Linked DNA regions of Homo sapiens. The protein of the gene in region 2 purifies or fractionates together with the protein of the main gene of each other region. This does not show direct contact. Each region holds a gene or a part of one and is shown on either strand. Other genes may lie near its edges.

The links.
Region 1: the proteins of DHH (region 2) and RPIA purify together in Homo sapiens (affinity purification with mass spectrometry; 2 studies listed by BioGRID and IntAct, with this or other methods). This does not show direct contact.
Region 3: the proteins of DHH (region 2) and RCC1L purify together in Homo sapiens (affinity purification with mass spectrometry; 2 studies listed by BioGRID and IntAct, with this or other methods). This does not show direct contact.

What each region holds. Positions count from the first base shown.
Region 1 is NC_000002.12:88,694,673-88,701,672, reverse strand, and holds part of RPIA (ribose-5-phosphate isomerase), read right to left. Parts: intron 3,190-7,000; coding exon 3,129-3,189; intron 1,665-3,128; coding exon 1,609-1,664; intron 1-1,608. UniProt on the Homo sapiens protein: Catalyzes the reversible conversion of ribose-5-phosphate to ribulose 5-phosphate and participates in the first step of the non-oxidative branch of the pentose phosphate pathway.
Region 2 is NC_000012.12:49,091,218-49,099,790, reverse strand, and holds the start of DHH (desert hedgehog protein preproprotein), read left to right. Parts: upstream 1-4,989; 5' UTR 4,990-5,278; coding exon 5,279-5,581; intron 5,582-5,602; exon of another isoform or gene 5,603-5,669; intron 5,670-6,372; exon of another isoform or gene 6,373-6,542; intron 6,543-6,874; exon of another isoform or gene 6,875-7,333; coding exon of another isoform or gene 7,334-7,495; exon of another isoform or gene 7,496-8,300; intron 8,301-8,401; coding exon 8,402-8,573. Other genes in the region: protein LMBR1L, read left to right, coding at 1,686-1,847, 2,052-2,119.
Region 3 is NC_000007.14:75,070,165-75,078,002, forward strand, and holds the start of RCC1L (RCC1-like G exchanging factor-like protein), read right to left. Parts: upstream 3,639-7,838; 5' UTR 3,574-3,638; coding exon 3,250-3,573; exon of another isoform or gene 3,016-3,249; intron 606-3,015; coding exon 476-605; intron 1-475. UniProt on the Homo sapiens protein: Guanine nucleotide exchange factor (GEF) for mitochondrial dynamin-related GTPase OPA1. Activates OPA1, by exchanging bound GDP for free GTP, and drives OPA1 and MFN1-dependent mitochondrial fusion. Plays an essential role in mitochondrial ribosome biogenesis.

The DNA.
Region 1 (7,000 bases), on a different chromosome or scaffold from region 2:
TTGGCTCAGAATAAAATTAACTTTGACTTAAATCTATAGTGGCTGTTAGAATATCCAATCACCTAAAAGAGCTAAAAGTATGTCCATGTAAAGAGCAAGAAATAGTGGAGGTCAGGGGTGGGAGGTAATAAGAGTGTGCTTTCTAGGTAGTGGTCATCTAGGGGAAAGTGAGGGTAGTGTGCTTTTTTTTCTTTTAAATAAAAAGACTTGAATTATTTGTTTCTTCAATCCACGTGCATATATAACTTTAAAAATAAACACCAATGTAATTTATTAACTAAGAAATAAAAATACTTGATGATCAAGCCAGTTGGAAAAATTAGATACTTAGCTTTTCAAAAGACTAAGAAAATCCATCACAAGCCACTGAGGCTTTAAAAGCATTGCCTCAAGAAAGCAGGATTTAAAAAAAAAAAAAAAAAGCTATATAAAACACTTAAGATATTGCCTTCAGTCCCCTGGGTGGCCATCCACCTTGTTTAAGGTCTCCAAGAGATTTAACATCAAGGAAGCTCCAACAGTATGCACTATCCAACTCCCTAACCTGTCTACCTGGAATCTCTGCCTTACACCCTACTGTTAAGCTGAGGCCAGTCTGGTTTAGAAGGAACCTTAACCTCTCTCCCTTCACCAGAGCTGGTTGCAGGCTGCCAGCATCCTGTGTCTCCAGGATTGGGAGGGTTTCCTAAGAAACCCAGCTATCCAAGCCTAAGTCCATAAAGTCCCAGGAGCATCAGTCACTCATAAATCTCATCTCCTACCCCAGTGCATAGTATCATCTTGACTAATCCAGCGAGAGATTATACACATACTCCTCCCTGCAATGGCCAGATGAGGGATGACAATTGGCTCCATCTGAGCAACTGTCTTCCCTTCCACTTCCCAAAACCTCTCTTCCCTTATCTCTCCCTATATTTAACTGGCTCCACTGCTTTCCTCCATCAGCTCCTACTATTTTATGATGTACTTGCATTACCAACACATTGCTTAATTCCTTTTAGCCTGATTTTTTTTTTCTTGAGACAGGGTCTCACTCTGTTGCCCAGGCTGGAGTGCACTGGCACAATCACAGCTCACTGCAGCTTGGACCTCCTGGGCTCAAGGGAGATCCTCCCGCCTCAGCCTCCTACATAGTTGGAACTACAGGTACAAGCCACCACACCCAGCTAATTTTTGTATTTTTTGTAGAGGCAGGCTTTCACCATAATGCCCAGGCTGGTCTTGAACTCCTGTGCTCAAGTGATCTGCCTACCTTGGCCTCCCAAAGTACTTGAGATTACAGGCATGAGCCACCACACCTGGCCTAGCCTGATTTTTTTCACCTATAAATAGGAGTAATATTCCTTGAGGAGAGAGACTACCGGGCCATCTCTGCATTCTCCGTAGTGCCTAAACTCAACATGCACTGAAATATTCACCAAGTGATTAAACAAATGCACCTAAAACTACAATTCCAAGAAGGAATCCTTGGTCAATAAACTCTCCTATTCCTGGACTCTCTGACCTAGAACAACCTTGAGGTACAAGACAAGGCCATAGGTCCACAACCCCGGGGAACCAGAAGATACAGCAGAAGCTGTCACGATGCAGATGGAAAGCAGGACATACCTGGAAGGAAGTGGGAATACAGACGAGGTTCAGATTCTCTTGCTTCACCCTTTCAGCTGTGGAAACAAAAGCCATATTGGCAGTTTTTCACTCTCCTTACTTTATTCTTCTTGTCATATGTGTTTGCTCGAAACCAACAGACAAGGGAAGGTCTATTTCCCAAAGACAGCTGCCTTTCATCCTGTGTCCCCCTCCTTGGTGGGAAAGTTGGTGACTGTACCTCACACATCAGAAGATAGGGACACAAGAAAGCCTGGAGAGGTAAGTACTGACCACAGAAAGCAGTGTCAGTGTTTGCCATTGTTATGTGCCTGACAATATTCTAAGAACTTTGTATATATGAACTCTTAATCCTAACAACCCAAAAGGTAAGTTAAATTATTTTCCGCATTTTGCAGATAAGGCAACTGAGGTTCAGAGAGGTAATGTAACTCGGTAGTTATACTGCTAATAAGGGACACAGCTGGGACATGATCCCAGGCCATGTAGCCACACAGTCTTAACTCCCCTATATTGCCTCTTCTAGGAAAAAGCCAGAACTTTACTTTTGCATTTTAGTAAAAAACATACTTATTTGTAGGCCCCAGAGAGTAGCTAAAGGAGATTTATTTTTTCAATTTGGATTTGTACCTTTCAGGAAAGTTTGATTTAAAAAAAAAAAAAAGACTTCAGGAAAAAATTCGTATTAAAATTTCAAGTCTTTTTAATCACTGAGTGCATCTTGGGAGGTTTGGGTGCCACTATTATAAAATCCATAGTAACTCCTGTGCCCTGAAAGTATTCTCCAGATACTTGGTTAAGATTGAAAGGTATATAACACAAAAGCTCCTATTTGGCCAGTGAGAAGGCTTCCAGAAGCCATCACACCAGCACTAAAACCACTCCTTGATAACAAAGTGTTCCTGGACTTTACCTCCTGGGCTCTGCCCCTTGGCACCTAGAAGAATTCAGCATTCAGGCAGGCCTCTCCTCTGGGCTTTGTTCTTACAAACAAAGAGCAGGGAAGTAAAACCTGTTGAGCAGCCATAGGGGCTGATAATTCCTGAGTCTTTCCTAAGCATAGAGACACCCTAATCAGTGTGAAATGAGCACCTGCAGGAACCAGCCATCAATGGCAGGAGTCCCACATCCACTCCAGGGTCATGGACAGGGCAAACCCACTATGGCCTCAATTATCTGCCTGAGGAAGTCTGAGCTCACGCAAAGAACTCAATGGTAGAATGCCATCAACATGATTAAAATTATATTGGGACCTCAAGCTAAGTCAGCTCCTCCCCTCCAGCTGAGCAGAGTAAACAAAGGCAAGGGCGTCCTTCAAAGTTGGATGAAGAGGCCCAAGATTCCCTCTCTCCACAAAAGAGCAGAAACACTCAACTGACCTCAGGTAGTCCCTCTCTCCAGCTCTGTACTGCTGAAGCCAAAAGGGCAATGCCAAACCTGTGTGCCACTTCCTCCCTCTCCTCTACCTCCCTACCCCATCATCACACACAAAACATCCAGTAGACAGTGAGAGAGCATACCTATTCGCTGCACAGCATGGACAATTGTAGAACCACTTCCAATTCCCAGCACTTGGTTATTCTGCCAAAAAACGGGGAAGAAAAAACAAAACTTATTAATATCATATTTTACTCCTTTGTCAGCCTACTTCCTAAAGCTATAAAATTATTATGAACAGCAATCCACCAACACAGGTACAAGACAGGTACTGTGCCTATTTTATAGGAACATAAACAATGAACCTCAATGCTGTACTTTAGCCAATCCATGGTGGACAAATGTTCAACAAGGCCCTCCTCTCTTCATTTCTGACACTGTCAACACCACCGCTTCCTCCCTACATTCTACCAAATAATTGGTGCAATTACTTGCAACTGAATAGCAACTTGCGTCACCCTCACAGAAATGGCCTGCATATAAACACTTAAAGATTCCTGACATTTCAAGCCAGCAACAGTGTGTTTAAAAAAAAAAAAAAAAGAAAGAAAGAAAGAAGAAGAAGAAAGAAAAGAAAAAGATTCCTGGCCAATCCCAGGGAGGCAATTAGAAAAACACCTAAGAAAAAACAATAGAGCCTGGAGCCTGGGTAAGGGAGGAAAGCTAAGGCTTCTGGCTTCAGTGTCTTCCATAGGCACCTTCAAGTTGGTAGCACCACAAGACACATCAGGCCCACCATCTAGAGCTCTCCCAAAGTCAGCAGATAAAGGGAGGGCCTGAAGTAACCTCAAAATAATAAAGTATGTCAGCATCTGCCTAGGTGACACCAAGGGGTGCTCATTTTGCATGAGCCTGCCTCAGAGAAAATGGAAAGAGGGCAAAGGCTTAGTTAAGAACATGAAAAATAGTCTTCATCTGCAATAGAAAGGATCATAATAAATGCAGAGCACTTCCTGAGTACAAAGTACAGGCAGACATCACAATACGGAGCCTACCTACAAGCAGACCAAACAAGAAGAAACAAAGAAGGTACCTACAAGCAGACCAAACAAGAAGAAACAAAGAAGGTACCTGCAAGCAGACCAAAGAGTAAAAGCTCAGCTGAGTCTACTAGACCACAAAGAGCAAAACGAGGCCAGGGTACTAACAGTCAGGAACTAATATGCAGCTCAGTGCCTAAGCAACTTCCTGACATCTATCTCCTGCCTTTGCAAGGCAAAGCCAAGTGAACACCAAAGCGGCAGCTACCATTTATTAAGCACCTACCAAGAAGACTTATAAATGTTAATATAAAGCCAAATCTCACAACAATCACTTATGACCTACAGAGCCACTATTTCCACTTTATAGATGAGTTCAATATTGTAAGGAAAAACTTAAGACTTTGAAATGAGCAAAAGAGACTACTGGATATCCTTCCAATGGGATGCTGGAACCTGCTTGTATTGTCTGACTCTAAGAAGGTATGTGCCTTTGTCTTTAAGATATATGACGACTGTATAGAGATACACTTTAACTTGCAGAAAACTGTTAACAAAGCAAGTAAGTTTTGTTCATTGAAATGCAAATTAATAGTGTTCTGTGAGACACAATTATTAACAGATCTTCTAAATTCATTTTAAGATTTTTTTACTACATATGAGCTTACAGTTGACTTCTCCTGTTATGCTTTGAACATCTCCACCAAAACTCACGTTGAAATTTAATTGCCATTATAACAATATTAAGAAGTGGGACCTTTAAGAGGTGATTAGGTCAGAGGGCTCCACCCTCATGGGTAGGATTGGTGCCCACCCATAGCACTTCAACATCTGTCTCTCTCACCAGATGCCAACGCCTTGATATTGGACTTCGTAGCCTCCAGAAGTATAAGCCAAAACATTTCTGTTCATTATAAATTACTCATTCTCAGGTATTCTATTATAGCAGCACAAAATGGACTAAGACACCTATGAACAGGTTCTAATAACCTTTCCAGTTCCCTCATTAATTTAGTGAGTTAAATAAAATCTTTGACATATATTTGTTTTATATATGTGTGATTTTACCTGTTTTAAATATATATACAAGATATACAATATATCTTGTATATATGTTTATAATATATATAAACTATCAATGCCCCCCCACACACACACAAACTCATCTTCAAACTCCTGGGCTCATACAATCCTACTGCCTCAGCTTCCCACATAGCTAGTACTATGGGAACATGCCACCATGCCCAGCTAATTTTTTTAATTCTTTTAAAAGACACAGTCTCACTCTGCCAACCAGGCTAGTCTCGAACTCCTGGCCTCAAGTGATCATCTCACCTCTGCCTCCCAAAGTGCTGGGATTACAGGATGAGCCATTTCAATCGAATAAGCAACTTCAGGAAGTTCAATTCGCTGAAACATCAATCTATTTCAAATTTCTTAAGATTTCCAACAACTGATTAACAATTAATTTATTTGACAAAGGAAAGCCCATAGTAAAACCTTCTTTTTAGGAAGAAGACAAGTCCTGAAGGGCCCTCAGGACAAGCAGGGCCACAACTAAAATCCTTCATTCCCCACAGGACAAAGGCCATAGGAATACTTAAAGTCAGCCCCTAGGCCTCACATTAGATATGGTCCTTCTCAAAGCCTGACTACATCTATAACTAGAAAAGATTAGAAAGAATGACCAACAAGTAGAGTTACCAAAAAAAAAAAAATCAAATACTAATGTCCCCACAACCATATACATATATACTAAAAATGCTACTATAGCCTCTCCTACCTACAGAAGACTTTATCCAACAACTTTTGTGTTATTGACCTGGTGGAAACTGCTTTTACTAGCTCACAGTTCCAAAGGCACTGAATACATCAGGGGCTTGGGCTGTCAGAACAGGGCTCGCACTAGGTCAGGATTCCACCTATACCAATGCTCTCAAGAAGGCAATGTGTGTAGTAAAGTTGTTTAGCTACCTGGACAATCCCCAAAGGCAAGGACTTCAAGACAAGTAAATGATACATCACAGTACAGAAACATTCAAAATGGCTAAATATCTCACATATAAAAATCTTCAAGGAATGAGAAAATGTCTTATCAAGGCCTATGTCTGAGTGTGGAAAAACTCAAACTTTTTCCTCTGCTCTCACACCACAACAATCATCAACACAGAAGACTTCTGTGATCAAATGTATGGGGATTTCTCCCCGTATCCCAAGCAAGCAATCTACTCTGCAGCAGACACCAGCTGGGTATCCTCCAATTCAATTTCAACACTCTCTACCTGGAGATACCATAAGGTTCCACTGGTTGAGGGCTCAGCTCCCAAGATTGCCTCCTCCTTCCTACCAAATGCAAGTCCAGGCCTCCAGAACTTCTGACTTGACAGCTTCAAGTTGGAGTTTCCACAACACTCTCTTTGGGTTTGATTAACTTGCTAGAGTGGCTCACAGAACTCAGGGAAAACATGTTTACCAGCTTATAAAGGCTATGATGAAGGATATGGATGAAGAGATGCATAGGTAAAGGCATGTAAGAAGGAGCACAGAGCTTCCATGCTCTCTCTAGGCACACCATCCTCCAGGGACCTTCACATGTTCTGCTCTCCAGAAGCTTCCAAACCCTGTCCTCTCGAGCTTTTCTTTTTCTTTTTCTTTTTTTTTTTTTTTTGAGACTTTATTGAATAGGTATGATTGGCTCTTGGAAAAGACCAGGAATTGCAAGGGCCTAGAAATGTGACTGAACAAAAAGGGCATGATCCAATACTAGCAGACTGACTGGGGAAACCCTGCAACGGCTGTCTGTTCAGATTCTTCTTCACCTGCAGCATTCCTTCCTCCAGGGTATGGAACAGGAACCCTTCTGAAATGGGGATCTTATGACGTACAAACAGACAACATAGGTCACAGAATTTCTTTACAGCCAGCTCCAAGACAGAAAAGCATTGGGGAGAGAAAGGAGCAAGTGGAAGGAGGGA
Region 2 (8,573 bases):
TGAGCAACATGGAGAAACCCCATCTCTACTAAAAATACAAAATTAGCCAGGTGTGGTGGTGCATGCCTGTAGTCCCAGCTACTCGGGAAGCTGAGGCAGGAGAATCACTTGAACCCGGGAGGCAAAGGTTGCGGTGAGCTGAGCTCACGCCATTGCACTCCAGCCTGGGCAACAAGAGCGAATCTTCATCTCAAAAAAAAAAAAAAAAAGTTCAAGAGTGTAACTAGTTCACCCCAAGGTAGTGTGTGAGCTGCAGAGGTAACAGCCGCCCTCCTACCTCCCCCTAAATACCACATCATCCTCTGTATTTTATATGTGATTTCATATTTAAGTCAGTTCTGGGGCCAGGCCTGGTGGCTCACGTCTGTAATCTCACACTTTGGGAGGCCAAGGTGGACAGATCAGCTTGAGGCCAGGAGGTCAAGACCGGCCTAGCCAACATGGTGAAACCCCATCTTTATGAAAAATATAAAAATTAGCCAGGTATGGTGGCACATGCCTGTAATCTCAGCTGAGGCATGAGAATTGCTGAGCTTGGGAGGTGGCTGAGGCATGAGAATTGCTTGAGCTTGGGAGGTGGAGGTTGCAGCGAGCCAAGATGGTACCACTGCACTCCAGCCTGGGTGACAGAGCGAGACTCTGTCTCAGAAAAAAAAAAAAAAAAAAATCAGCTGTGAGCCAGGCCTGGTGGTTCACGCCTGTAATCCTAGCACTTTGGGAGGCCAAGGTGGGAGGATCACTTGAGGCCAGGAGTCCTAGACCAGCTTGAGCAATATAGTGAGACCCCATCTCTACCAAAAAAAAAAAAAAAAGTGTTTTTAATTAGCACACCTATAGTCCTAGCTATGTGTGAGACTGAGGCAGGAGGATTGCTTGGGCCCAGGAGTTTGAGGCTGCAGTGAGCTAAGACTGTGCCACTGCACTCCAACCTGGGCAACAGAGCAAGACCCTGTCTTAAGACAAAACCAAATTAAACAAAACAAAAAACAGCTCTATTTCATTCTTAACGTTATATTATTTCCACTCTACCATTTGTATTTATGCCAGGAGAATTTGTAAGAAAGTAGGTTTGTGGGTCTTCCAGTTAGTTCCTTTAGGGTGGATGCAGGTAAGAATATTTAAAGGTGGAGAGCAGAGTTTTTTGATTTATGATAATATTATGAGGGGACCAGTAAATGTTAGAATAGTGCCTGGCACAGACAGTGCTTTATGTGTGTTGTCTCATTTAATTCTTAGGAAACTGAGGCACAGAAAATTTAAGGAAATTGCCCCAGATCACGCAGCTAGTTAGGGGTGGAGTTGGGATATGAACCAAAGCAGCCTGATGAGTATGAGCGCCCAGCAACCACACTGTTCTGTCTACTAAAAAAAACTTGGCAAACTGCTTATTCCAGGCCCAGGAACAAGTAGTAGGCCCTGGGAGTTCCTGGGGACACCAGGAGCCAGAGGAGGCCTCACTGGAGGAGAAGATACCAGACTCTGGAAGCGAAGTTGAAGCAAGCCTAGCTGCTGGCACTTAGAACAGTCCCGAACTGCTCTTGAGACAGCTTGGGTGGTAGAATTGGGAGAGGCCAACCTATCAGTTGCAGTGTTGAAATGTGGCCACCAGGAGGCAGCAGAAAGTTGGGCTGGTAGCAGAAAAGGGCCTGGGGAGCCCACCTCTCATCCTGGCCTTTGTGCTTCAGGGCTCACTCGCTTTGACCTGCTGGGTGACTTTGGACGCTTCAACTGGCTGGGCAATTTCTACATTGTGTTCCTCTACAACGCAGCCTTTGCAGGCCTCACCACACTCTGTCTGGTGAAGACCTTCACTGCAGCTGTGCGGGCAGAGCTGATCCGGGCCTTTGGTGAGAGGGAGTGAGGGTGCAGGCTAGTGGGGGGTGGTAATCATCTAGGACACTCTGGAACATGGATCACCCCAGCAGGGGAGAGGGTGTGCTTCCTGCTTTGTGGGTAACGTACCTCATCCACACATTCTGTGGCTTGGCTGCCTGGTCCCTAACGGACTGGACCTTTGACTTGCTTTTGACTGCCCATCTCCTCTTCTCCAGGGCTGGACAGACTGCCGCTGCCCGTCTCCGGTTTCCCCCAGGCATCTAGGAAGACCCAGCACCAGTGACCTCCAGCTGGGGGTGGGAAGGAAAAAACTGGACACTGCCATCTGCTGCCTAGGCCTGGAGGGAAGCCCAAGGCTACTTGGACCTCAGGACCTGGAATCTGAGAGGGTGGGTGGCAGAGGGGAGCAGAGCCATCTGCACTATTGCATAATCTGAGCCAGAGTTTGGGACCAGGACCTCCTGCTTTTCCATACTTAACTGTGGCCTCAGCATGGGGTAGGGCTGGGTGACTGGGTCTAGCCCCTGATCCCAAATCTGTTTACACATCAATCTGCCTCACTGCTGTTCTGGGCCATCCCCATAGCCATGTTTACATGATTTGATGTGCAATAGGGTGGGGTAGGGGCAGGGAAAGGACTGGGCCAGGGCAGGCTCGGGAGATAGATTGTCTCCCTTGCCTCTGGCCCAGCAGAGCCTAAGCACTGTGCTATCCTGGAGGGGCTTTGGACCACCTGAAAGACCAAGGGGATAGGGAGGAGGAGGCTTCAGCCATCAGCAATAAAGTTGATCCCAGGGTTTGCTTTGTTTTTTTAAAGCACCTGTCTCTGTGTATATTTGAACAGCCTTGCTCCCACCAGCCCGGCGTCTGCCCAGTAAGAGAAGCAGAGGGGTCCTGCCCACCATCCTTTTCCTTCCCCTTCATCTATATTATTACCATCCTTTGGGGACTTGGATCTGGTGTTAGGCCATGCAGTTGGGCAGTGGGAAACTCCTCCATCCTCAGTCTTGCTTAAAGCTGGCTTGTCCCCTGACTCCTCCTTATATTCATGGCCTTGTTTCTGTACCTTGAGTATTGGGGGTAGGACATGGGCATAGGAGTAGGCTAACCTCCCCGATACACTCATACCTTCAGCCCTATCCTCCCTGGCTTAACTATTGGATATAGAGTAAAATAAGTGGCTGGCTGACAAGGATTTTCATTTCCTACCTGAGAGAAGAATCTAGCTTTTTACTAGAGGCCATCAGTTTCTTGAAAAGCCCATGTGCTATGTTGGGAGTAAGAGCGCAAAACTTAGGCTTATACAGATTGTGTATTGCACAGCTTCCAGGGACACCATTCACCTCATAGTCATTGTGTGGATAGTTACTATGATAGTTTTCTAATAAATGTCAGTCATCTTGAGGAAGGGGTGCTTTTTTTTTCTTTTTTCTTCTTCTTTTTTTTTTTTTTTTTTTTGTGAGACAAGGTCTGGCTCTATCACCCTGGCTGGAGTGCAGTGGTGCAATCTCAGCTCACTGCAACCTCCGCATTCTGGGCTCAAGCCATTCTTCCAGCTCAGGCTCCAGAATAGCTAGGACAACAGACACATGCTACCATGCCTGGCTAATTTTTGTATTTTTAGTAGAGATGGGGTTTTGCCATGTTGCCTGGGCTGGTCTTGAACTCCTGAGCTCAAGTGATCCACCTACCTTGGACTCCCCAAATGATGGAATTACAGGGGTTAGCCACAACACCCAGCCATCTTTTTTTTGGGGGGGGGGGTCCTCACTCTGTCACCCAGGTTAGAGTGCAGTGGCATGATCTTAGCTCACTCTACAGCCTTGAACTCTTGCACCCAAGTGATCCTCCTTCCTCAGCCTCCTGAGTACCTAAGACTACAGGCATGTACCACTACCTCCCACTAATTAATTTTTTTTTTTTGAAACGGGGTGTCACTATGTTGACCAAGTTGGTCTTCAACTCATGGCCTCAAGCAGTCCTTGCCTCGCCCCCAAAGTGTTGGGATTACAGGAGTGAGCCACTGTGCCTGGCCTGGTTTTTTCTGATGTACACAAAGTTGCTATGAGTACTAGCCATAGAGTGTGGTGAGGGGAGGGTGAATATGAAACACAAAGTGTAGATTCCACAAATGCTTGCAAAGCACCCTTCTGTAGAGTAGGCACTTAACCTTGGAGATACATGATAAATATGTGTGTGCTTAAGATTGCTTTGTCTAGTAAGGTGCCAGATAATTCTAATACTGTTCTAACACTGCAGTTAAGTAATGGTTCTCGAGGGAACACAGGTGGGCAGTGTTGGGACATCAAGGAAGGCTTCTTAGAAGAAATGACTTCTAAACAAAAGAAATTGGACGTGGTGCCTCTGAGATGAGATCTGAGTGGCTGAAAATGGAGCCCCGGGAGTCCAGAGAGGGAGAAAGCTGGAGAGGTGCCTAGATGGACGGTTAAGGGAAGTGATCCTCACCTCTTACAAAGACTTTTGAGTGTCCACTGCCCTTCAGCAGCTTCCAACTGAGAAGTCATTCATTTGAAAAACAGCAGCTATTAGATGCCTGGCAAAGAAGAGAAGGGGAAAAAAGTTGGAAGTCCTAAATGAGACAATAAGTACCAAGCTCTGTTCCTGGTTCTGGGGAAGTTCCAAAGGAGACTGCAAAGTTAGTAGAGAAATGGGCCCCTGGTATCCTCACCTCCCAGTCCTGCTTAATGCTGAATGTGAGGAGAGATGGAAGTCGGGGAGATCTGGGGAGGACTACAGAGAAGGGAGGCTCTGGTTGTATGCCCAAAGGGCTTGGCTGGTCTTGGGCAGAAATTGGAACCCATACTTCCTGGATGACAGCGGAGGGCATGGCCTGCCAGGGTAGGCTTTGAGAGAGTAAAAATTCCAATTCAAGTATCAGAGGAGGGTGGTTTGGTTCCAAGTTTAAGCTTGGAGGTAGAAGGATGTTTAGGCAGCCAAGGACTGTAAAGCTACAAGTATTTCCTAGGCAGGTGTCTGCCTGGTTTCCAGGATGGGACACACTTCAGTCGCAAAATGGACCAGCAGTGACCGGCTAGATCCCCCGCCCGGGTGGGAGGGGGTGGGACGGTCTTGGGAGAAGGGCGGAGGGCGGGGCCAGGGGCCACTTAAGGCGGAGTCCGGAGTCCGGGCGTTCTGGCAGCACCAGAGTCCTGCAGCAGAGACGGGCTGGGCTGGCACTCACCCACGACCCCCCTTCCCTGCTATGATGGTTTGTCAGTAGCAGGTCCTAGACACCCCCCGCCCGCTCCCGGGGCACGTGGGCAGAGCTAGCAGCAGCCAGGTGCACGGAGCCACAAGAGCTCTAGGGCACTCTGGGGGCAGCTGTGCCTGCTGCCCTCTCTGGTGCCTGTGGAGATGCCTAACTGACAGGAGAGTTAGTGAGGACAAGAACGCTCCCTTTTGGCCGAGGTCCGCTGTATCCATGGCTCTCCTGACCAATCTACTGCCCCTGTGCTGCTTGGCACTTCTGGCGCTGCCAGCCCAGAGCTGCGGGCCGGGCCGGGGGCCGGTTGGCCGGCGCCGCTATGCGCGCAAGCAGCTCGTGCCGCTACTCTACAAGCAATTTGTGCCCGGCGTGCCAGAGCGGACCCTGGGCGCCAGTGGGCCAGCGGAGGGGAGGGTGGCAAGGGGCTCCGAGCGCTTCCGGGACCTCGTGCCCAACTACAACCCCGACATCATCTTCAAGGATGAGGAGAACAGTGGAGCCGACCGCCTGATGACCGAGGTAAGGAGGGCCTCTCCCTACCTGCGCCGGGGCACTGCCAGCTCCTCCGTTTTCCTATGGCAGCCCAGGTGGGTGAGTCCAGCTTCACCTACAGAGAGTTTAGCCTTAGAGATTTCCCTTGTCACCAGCCCCAGGGGGGGGAAAAATCCTTGCAGTCTGGACAGAGTAATTAGGACGGCTCCCGACTAGAATAGTCTGGGATGGGGAGGGGAGGAGGGACTGACTAGTGAGAGTGAAGCTGGTAGAGGCAGCGAGGGCGGGGAAAGGAGGATGGCGGCAGGCGAGACGGGAAATGGCTGAGGCGTGGACCGGGGGTCAGCCACCCAGCCAGGCAGGAAGGGCTGGGGTGAGCTGGGGGCCAGGAGCTGGCTAGGTAGCAGACAGAAGCCTGGCTCCTGACCTGATTGTAGAAAAGCTCTGTGGGCCGAAAAGAAGAGACTGAAAAGGGCTGGGACAGGGGTGGCCAAGGGTCAGGTCACCAGACCATCTACCTGAGGAGGGGCTGGGCAGACATTGCTTTTGGCATGGGAAACGTGTCCTAGAACCAGGACACATCTATTCTAGGGTCTATTCTAGGGCTATCCTAGGGTCTAAACGATAATCTTGGGGTTAAAAAGTAATCCTCAGTGAGAATAACAGATGGACCCACCTGAGAATCAGAGGGCTCCTAAGTCTTCCAAGCTCTGCCTATCTCAGGGGCTTTCCTTGGAATTACATAATTAGGATAAATTCAACTACCATTTTTGAGCATTGGAACCACCTAGAGTGAGGTGGAAGAGAAGGACCACCTCTGGCGAGTGATTTATTTTTTATTTTTTGTAGAGACGGGGTCTTGCCATGTTGCCTAGGCTAGTCTTGAACTCCTGAGCTCAAGGGATCCTCCCACCTCGGCCTCCCAAAGTGCTGGATTACAGGTGTGAGCCACTTCATCCAGCCTGGCCAGTGATCTTGAATGTTAGAACTGAAAGAAAACTTGAGAGATGACATTCCTCCAACCCTCCCCACCCCCACTGCCACCCTCATTTTACATCTGAGAGCTGGACTTCCCCCAGGAGGAAAAGCAATTTAAACTCTCACAATTTAAAGTGGCATGGCTGGGACTAGAATTCAGGACTCCTGATTCTAAGCCCTATATACTTTCCATTACACCACCTAATTGTGTATGGAGTGGGGAGGTGGGGGGAGAGGGAGGGGTACGGATTTCCTCTGATTAATTGCCATAGTTTTCCAGGTTACTTTGTTAGGAAAACCTGTCCAGGGAAGAAATAATTCCTTTTGCTTCTGCCCTGAAGCCTTCCTCCTACCTAGAGATGGGAAAAGGGGCATTCCTTCTTTCCTCCTTGGCCGTGGAACATTGTGGCCCTTTCCTCTGGTTGCCACCTGCAGCAGAGTGGGCAGAACAAGGGACAGGCTCAGGAGGGGCTCCGGCAGGCCTGGGAGCCCCCTCAGTCTTACTTATCTCCCACACCCTGGCTGCAAAAGGCCTCCATTGAGTTGGCTCTGCACTGGGCTGCTGCCCCCGCAGGTCAGGGCCTCGGGGCCTCCTTAGGGGACGAAACGACAAAGTTGGAAGGAGCTACCACTTTTCCTGTTTTCCCCCCACCCAACCCCAACTCTGCGGGGTGGAGGAGACTAGAGGAGAGGGGAAAAGTGTCTTTCTGTTAGGAGAAAACCAAGTCCGAGGTGAGAGGTCGGAGGGGAAAGAAAAAAAGGAAGCTGTCCCTCTGCGCCTCCTCCCGCGGTGTCCCTGCTATGGTGCGCGCCAAGGTCTCCCGCTCCCAGGCTGGAGCGGCCAAGATAACTGTGGTCTCACTCCCCCAGGTGCAGGCTTCCAGCCGCAGCTTCTTTTCCTCTTCTCCGCTCTCACCCTGCAGGGGGCTCCCCAGATCCGCACAAGGAGACCGTTATTCTCAGGTGCTACTCCCACGCCCTTCTGGGCTGCATCTAGAGCAGAGATGGGAGAGATAGGGGCTCTCCGGACTGGCAGAGCCTTAGCTGGAACTGGGAAGACTGGACGCGCGGGGGGAGGGGACCTACCCGGACGGAGCAGGGATTGGGGGCGCGGCTTTCTGCCCTTTCCTCTCCCTGAGCCGGGGCGGCTGAAAAGCGCCTTTGTGGCCGGAGCTGCTGAGTCCGCTTCTCCCAGCGCGTTCCCGGCCTGGGCTCAGGATTCTCGCTCGGTTAAGTCATCCCGGATAATGGCCATTGTACTTCGCGCAACCCCCGCCACCCCAATCCTTTTTCCAGCAGCCTTGATCCCGCACAGCTCCTCTTGGGCACCTCTCTGGGGGGCACCCAGAGCACGAAGGGGTTAATGCTAAGGGCCCAAAGGAGGAGGAGGAAGGAAGGAAGGAAGCGATGCCCGGTGCCAGGGAAGGCAATGAAACAAAAGATGAATCAGGCGGAGGGAGGGGAGCCGGTGCCTGGGGCGGGGGCCAGGCTCAAACAGGGGCTCTCCGGGAGCAACCAGGCCCTCCCTGACCACGCTTCCATTCGCCCTCCTAACTCTGTCCTTCTCCCAGGTTGAGCCGCTGTCCCTGAACCAATAGGGGTGAGGGACGGGCATTAAAAATGGGGAAGGAGCTAGGTATGGGCACCCCCTCTCAACCTCAGAGGTGAGCCCACAGTTCTCCAACGACGTCCTGGGAACAGAGTGCAGATTGGTGACTACCATCGACTCAGATTCTCATTTCTCCAGGACACTCAAAAGCTGGGAGGGGTAAGAGTAGGGCCGGAATAACAAAGAATCAACCCTCCTATCCAGGTCCCTTTTGCCCCAAGGGTGGTGGTGGGGAGACTGACTCCTTTATTCCCCGCCAGCGTTGTAAGGAGCGGGTGAACGCTTTGGCCATTGCCGTGATGAACATGTGGCCCGGAGTGCGCCTACGAGTGACTGAGGGCTGGGACGAGGACGGCCACCACGCTCAGGATTCACTCCACTACGAAGGCCGTGCTTTGGACATCACTACGTCTGACCGCGACCGCAACAAGT
Region 3 (7,838 bases), on a different chromosome or scaffold from region 2:
TGTTACCAAAGAGGCTAAAAAATAACCTAGCCCAGATGGTTTCAAACAACATCCCTTTAAGTCTTCCTCTATTTCTTTGCTATTTCTTTGTTTATGTAACCATGTTCTTGAACACCAAAGGGAGGGCTGGGCGCTGTGCCTCATGCCTGTAATCACAGCACTTTGGGAGGCTGAGGAGGGTGGATCACCTGAGCTCAGGAGTTCGAGACCAGCCTGGTGAACATAGTGAAACCCCAACTCTACTAAAAATGCAAAAATTAGGCAGGCATGGTGGCATGTGCCTGTAATCCCAGCTACTCGGGAGGCTGAGGCAGGAGAATCACTTGAACCCGGGAGGTGGAGGTTGCAGTGAGCCAGGATCTCGCCACTGCACTCTAGCCTGGCAACAGACTGAGACTCTGTCTCAAAAAAAATACAAAAAAAGAGCTTTCTCAGACCAATCCCGGCAAAGAGGAGACAAGGTAGGGATGCTCACTTTTATCTTTCCGGCTCCTGTGAAATCCAAGCTGAGAATCTTTGTTGAGTCCCATCCCCCAGACTTTCGTAACATCCGCAGTCTTAGAGGACAGCAGTGTGAATCCATAGCCGCAAGCAGCAGATGAAATCTGAAAAGCAGTTCCCACAAAGCATGAACTGATTTATAATGTCAAGTTTGTTCAGTAGTAAATGACAGGTTATTTATCAAATCCAAGAACACATACTATTTACGGGGGTTTTGTTTTTGTTTTTGAGACAGTCTCACTCTGTTGCCCAGGCTGGAGTGCAGTGGCGCAATCTCGGCTCACTGCAATCTCCATCTCCCAGGTTCAAGCCTCCCAAGTAGCTGGGACTACAGGTGTGCACACCACGTCTGGCTAACTTCTGTATTTTTAGTAGAGACAGAATTTCACTATGTTGGCCCAGGTGATCTCAAATTCCCGGCCTCAAGTGATCTGTCCGCCTTGGCTTCCCAAGGTGCTGGGACTATATGCGTCAGCCACCGTGCCTGGCCCAAGAACACATATTATTAAGACAGCAACTAGCATTTATTGAGCATTTACTATATGTTTGATAAGTATTATCTCATTTAATCTTTATAATCACTCTATGAAGGGTGATTTACACATAGACCATAAATATAGTCTATTTATGGTCTATGTCAGCTTACCACTAGGTATTACCATCCCCATTCACCAAGATCAAGACACTATCTAGCAGCAGCCGAGTACGGTGGCTCACACCTGTAATCCCAGCACTTTGGGAGGCTGAGGCAGGCAGATCACTTGAGGTCAGGAGTTTGAGACCCGCTTTGGCCAACATGGTGAAACCCCATCTCTACTAAAAATACAAAAATTAGCTAGGCATGGTGGCGTGCGCCTGTAATCTCAGCTACTCGGGAGGCAGGAGAAGTGCTTGAACCTGGGAGGCAGAGGTTGCAGTGAGCCAAGATGGCGCCACTGCATTCCAGCCTGGGTGACAGAATAAGACTCTGTCTCAAAAACAAAACAAAACAAAACAAAACAAAAAACACCACCATCTCTTAGCGCGGTAGGTAAGTTGACAGATCTCCTTAGTTTTGAATCCTGGCCCCATCCTTACCAACTGTGTGATCTGAGATAGATTACTTTACCTCTATATCTGTTTCTCCTTCTCTAAAAAGTAAAGATGATAATAGTACCATCTCTCTCACTAAGCTGTTGTGAAGACTAAACGAGTTAATATAGCTAAAGCCCTTATAGGGAATAGTACCCATCTCAAGGTAAGAGCTATATTTTGAGCCTAGGCAACAAAGTGACAACCTGTCTCTATGAAAAAATCAAAATTTAAGCTTGGTCCCAGCTACATGGGAGGCTGAAGCAGGAGGATCACTTGAATCCAGGAGGTCGAGGCTGCAGTGACCCATGATCACGCCACTGTACTCCAGCCTGGGCAACAGAGCCAGATCAAAAAAAAAAAACAAACCTATATTTTGTACTCTATTTTGTATTTTAAATTTATACATATACATATACATATACATATATATATATATATATATATATATATATGGAGAGAGAGAGAGACAGAGAGATGAGTTCTCACTGTGTTACCCAGGCTGGTCTCAAACTCTTGAACTCAAATGATCCTCCTGCCTTGGCCTCCCAAAGTGCTGAAATTACAGGCATGAGCTACCGCACCTGGCCTATATTGTATGCTTTTTGTTGTTGTTGTTTAGTTTTTGTTATTGCTTTTGTTATTATATTTTCTATTTCTTATTGCTGTTAGCAGTAGTATAAGGCAGATGAGAAAGTGTGGCTTCTAAAGGTTGAGTAACTTGACTGCATGCTTTTCACTGACACTACACCGTTACGTACTCAGGCTATTACCATGAAAAGGAAAACTCAGTACTACAGCTACTGTGAATTTAACACAGTGACAACCCCAAGGTCTTTGTTGGGTGTTTTAACTACACTCTCATCAATCCTCCCTTCACTGACCCGATGAGAAAACCGGGGCTTCCAGTGAGGTTGGATATAGACCAAAGATGGTTTGATTTTAAAATCAATCCTCTTTCAGCCAGGCACAGTGGCTCACGCCTGTAATCCCAGCACTTTGGGAGGCCAAGGCGGGCGGATCGCTTGAGTTCAGTTCAAGACCAGTCTAGCAAACATGGCGAAACCCCATCTCTACTAAAAATACAAAAATTTGCCGGGCTAGGTGGCAGGACGATCTCTTGAGCCCAGGAGGTCGAGGCTGCAGTGAGCTATGATGACACCACTGCACTCCAGCCTGAGCGACAGAGCGAGACCCTGTCTCTAAAAAATAAATTAAAACAAAAAAATCCCCTTTCTGAGTTGTTCATTGAAACACCTCAGCTGGTATACATTTTCAATGGACTTTTGAATTTTGCTTTCCTAACATCAGAACTCCTGCAGTCACGCTGGCCTGAGTGAGAATTCCACCGCATATAAACAGCTAGCAGCGGTGGGGCCTCGGGCCTCAACCTCTCTGGGCCTCCCCTTCCTTCCCTGTAATTGGGAATAACTGTCGACTCACTGGGTGCTAAGCGAATGACACGACCCGGCACAACATCTGGCACTGCCACCCAATAAATGTTGATGGCCACCCCTAACGCCTTCCCCTCCTGGGCTTGCAGCCAGCTCGAGGGTCGTCCTGCCGGAAGTCTGTCCACCCAGAGGAGCCAACTTCTTGAAGAGAGCCGAACAGGTCGAGGGAGGCCGGGAGCGCGGAAGAGAGAGAAGGAGAGAAGGAGGAAGCCGCGGCCTGCACCTTTTGGTCCAGCTCCAGGCGATAGGGCACGGGCTGGATCCTGCGGCGCGGTCGGGCGCCGGCGCGGGGCCCGGGCCCGGAGCTGGGCACCACAAAGGAAGGCACGCCCAGCGCCCCCGAGAAGCTGAAGCCCCACACGAAGACGCGATCGGCGCGGGCAGCGCGCTCGCCCACGTACTGGACCACGGGCACCTCCGCCTCGGCTTCTGCCGCTTCGCGCCGGCTCCGGGAGCGCCCGGCCGCCGTCCAGTGCCCTCGCCCCAGCCCCGGCCCGCTCAGCCGCCGCCCCAGCCGAGCCCCAGCCACCAACGCCACCAGCGCCATCCTCCGTTCCGCGCCTCAGCAGCCTCTGGGCGCCGCCATCTTGCGTGACCCTTAACACCAGTCCTCGCCGGAAGAGGCTACGGCCACTTTTACTCCTGGTTGAAGGCAAAGGCGCTGACGGCAGCCCAAGGCTCAGGGAGGCGTGGCGTGGCGATGGTGAGGGGCGGGGTTAGGGGCGGGATTAGGATTCTTGTCCCTTAGCGAAACTGCGTGTCCTGTTTTGCTCCCTTGCTATTGCCCCGCGACATTTCTTACCTGGCCTTGCTGCAGCCGTCTCCGCTCCGGTCTGCTCCCACGCCGCCCCAGGCCGTCCTCCAGCGACAGCGAGCTGGAGTGGACGATTCCCTGCTGCCTTCGCATCCCCTGCCCAGGTCCCCTCAAACCTATCGACAGGCTCACTGCAACCTCCCCCTCCTGGGTTCAAGTGACTCTCGTGTCTCAGCCTCCCGAGTAGCTGGGACCACAGGCGTACGCCACCACGCCCGGCTAATTTTTGTATTTTTAGTAGAGACAGGGTTTCACGATGTTGGCCAGGTTGGTTTTGAACTCCTGACCTCCAGTGATCCACCCACCTCGGCCTCCCAAAGTGCTGGGATTACAGGCATAAGCCACCGCCCCCAGCCTGTGCAGGCCTGTTTTATGGAAGATGACTGGGGAAAACCCACTAATAAAATGTGGTGACCACAAGACTGCTCATGGAAAGCCTCTTACTACAGGGAGTAAAATTCATGAAGGCACTGAAACCACCAGTCTCCCGGGCTATGAAATGTATTCTCTGCGGCGGACCCAGTCTTCCAGCACTTTGGAAGACAAAGGTGGGAGAATCACTTGAGAGTTCGAGACCAGCCTGGGCAAATAGTGGGACCCTTTCTCTACAAAAAAATTTAAAAATTAGCTCGGCGTGATGGTGTGCACCTGTGGTGCCAGCTACTTAGGAGACTGAGGCAGGTGGATGGCTTAAGCCCAGGAGTTCGAGGCTGCAGTGAGCCATGATTGCACCACTGCACTCCAGCCAGGACAGCAGAGTGAGACCCTGTCTCTGAAAAAAAAAAAAATTAAATTAAATGTAAATATAAAAGTAAAAATAAATGTGTCTATGGACCCGCCTGGTAGTAAGTTCCCTGCCACCATTTGGGATAGATAAACTTAGCCATTCACATCGGTCCCCTTACCCTGTCTCGACCCAGCCAGTATTCAATCAGAACACACACTGTTTGCCACATGGAATTGTAGATGCTAGTGCCACCTTCAAAGATGTAAAAGATTCAGAGGGGTGGTGATTCCTATCCAATGGGTAGCTCCCCATTGAGTTCACCTGTTTGGCTCCTAAAAAAACTGATGGATTGGCCAGGCATAGTGGCTCACACCTGTAATCCCAGCATTTTGGGAGGGCAAGGCAGGCACATCACGAGGTCAAGAGATGGAGACCATCCTGGCCAACATAGTAAAACCCCATTTCTACTGAAAATACAAAAATTAGCTGGGCGTGGTGGAACGCACTGTAGTCTCAGCTACTTGGGAGGCTGAGGCAGGAGAATAGCTTGAACCCGGGAGGCGGAGGTTGCAGTGAGCCGAGATCGCACCACTGCACTCCAGCCTGGCGACAGAGCGAGGCTCCGTCTCAAAAAATAAAAAAAGATGGACTGTGGTAGGGGACAGGGGACCACCATACATTTAGGCAAGTGCATGGTCCAACTCATAGCTGCTGTGTCAAGCGTGCCGTCTGTTTTTTTGTTCGTTTGTTTGTTTTTTGAGACAGAGTCTCAGTCTATCACCCAGGCTTGAGTACGGTGACATGATCTCGACTCACTGCAACCTCCGCCTCCTGGGTTCAAGCAATTCTCCTGCCTCAGCCTCCCAAGTAGTTGGGATTACAGGCGTGCACAACCACACCCGGTTAATTTTTTGTATTTTTAGTAGAGACGGAATTTCACCATGGTGGCCATGACTGGTCCCCAACTCCTGACCTCAGGTGATCTGCCCGCCTCCACCTCCCAAAGTGCTGAGATTACAGGCCTGAGCCACCGCGCCCAGCCATGGCATCTGTTTTACCAGAAGAGATCAACACACCCTCTGAAACATGATACAGGACACTGATCTGGTGAGTGGGTTCTTTTCAATCCCTAACAGAAAAGAGGACCAAAAACAGTTTGCCTCTGCGTGAAGGAAAGCATTACTCATGAACTCTCCCACTGTCTCACTCCCGACACCACCCACATTAAGTATCTGTTACAAGACCTTGTCTCCAGCCGGGCGCGGTGGCTCATGCCTGTAATCCCAGCACTTTGGAAGGCTGAGGTGGGCGGATCACGAGGTCAGAAGTTTGAGACCAGTCTGGCCAACATAGTGAAACCCTGTCTCTACTAGAAATATGCAAAAAATTAGCTGGGTGTGGTGGTGTGTGCCTGTAATCCCAGCTACTCAGGAGGCTGAGGCAGGAAAATCATGTGAAACCGGGAGGCGGAGGTTGCAGTGAGCCGAGATCGTGCCCCTGCACTCCAGCCTGGGCGACAGAACGAGACTCCATCTCAAAACAAAAAAACAAAAAAAACTTATCTCCGTCTCTATTCCTTTATTCCTTATCTCTGTCTTTATTCCTTTATTTTTTATTTTTTTGAGACGGAGTTTCACTTTTGTTGCCCAGGCTGGAGTACAGTGGCGTGACCTCAGCTCACTGCATCCTCCACCTCCTGGCTCAAGCGATTCTCCTGCCTCAGCCTCCTGAGTAGCTGGAATTACAGGCGCCCACCACCACGCCCGGCTAATTTTGTTTTGTATTTTTAGTAGAGACGGGGCTCCACCCTATTGGCCAGGCTGGTCTCGAACTCCTGAACTCAGGTGATCCACCCGCCTCGGCCTCCCAAAGTGCTGGGATTACAGGCATGAGCCACCGTGCCCGGCCTATTTATTCATTTATTTACTCATTTTTTAGAGACAGAATTTGGCTGCACTTGAGTTGATAAATCTGAGACATATATTGATAAAGGACAATTATGTAAATATTATAAATATAGTTAATATTAATAGTTAATATAGGGAATATTTATATATTTACGAAATGCATACACAGTTCAGCTGGGTGGAGTGGCTCATGCCTATAATCCCAGCACTTTGGGAGGCTAAGGCAGGAGGACTGCTTGAGCCCAGGAGTTCGAGACCAGCCTGGGCAACATAACAAGACCTTGTCTGTATACAAAATTTAAGAATTAGCCTGGCATGTTGGAGCCCACCTGTGGTCCCAGCTACTTGGGAGACTGAGGTGGGAGGATTCTTGAGCCTGGGAGGTCGAGGCTGTAGTGAGCTGCATTTGCACCACTGCACTCCGGCCTGGGTGACAGAACAAACCCTGTCTCAAAAAAAAAAAAAAAAAGAAAGAAAGAAAAGAAAAATTTTGAACTGAACTTTCATAAGCAGGACTGTCCTTTTATCTGAGTTTGTGTCCTTTCTAGTTTTTTGGTTTTCAACATCTGATTTTTTTGTTTTTTCAAAGTCTGGCTTTTTCATCAAGGCTGGAGTGCAGTGGCACAGTCTCGGCTCACTACAACCTCCGCCTCCTGGGTTCTAAGTGATTCTCCTACCTCAGCCTCCCAAATAGCTAGGATTACAGGCACCCACCACAATGCCTGGCTAATTTTTGTATTTTTAGTAGAGACGGGGTTTCACTATATTGGCCCGGCTGGTCTCGAACTCCTGACCTCAGGTGATCCACCTCCTGACCTCAGGTGATCCACCTCCTGACCTCAGGTGATCCACCTGCCTTGGCCTCTGTAAGTGCTGGAATTACAGGCGTGAGCCATCCCACCTGGCTCAACGTCTGGTCTTTTACAAACTCATAATGACAATAGGATAGTAGGTTTTAAAATTTTTTTTACTTGTCAATATTTTAATAACCCTATGTGAGTTTCTCAAATTTCTAAAACATTTTACTATTAGGGGATATCCAAAGGACACAAGCCTTGGTTTAGTATTTTGAAGATAAAAGGACAAACTGCAATGTGAACCGCAGCCACGGGGTGGCAATACTTACCCACCAATTCTGTCTCCTATGAAAGGCTAAAACATCCTAAACGTCTATTTGGCCAATAAAGAGCTGGATTTGTAGCCACAACTGGGCTTTTCTATTTTGCTATCAAAACTTGGTTGGTTTTGTAGACTGCTTCTGTGCTAGAAAATACTTACTTTTCTGGCTTGGCGTGGTGGCTCACGCCTGTAATCCCAGCACTTTGGGAGGTCGAGGCAGGTAGATCACCTGAGGTCAGGAGTTC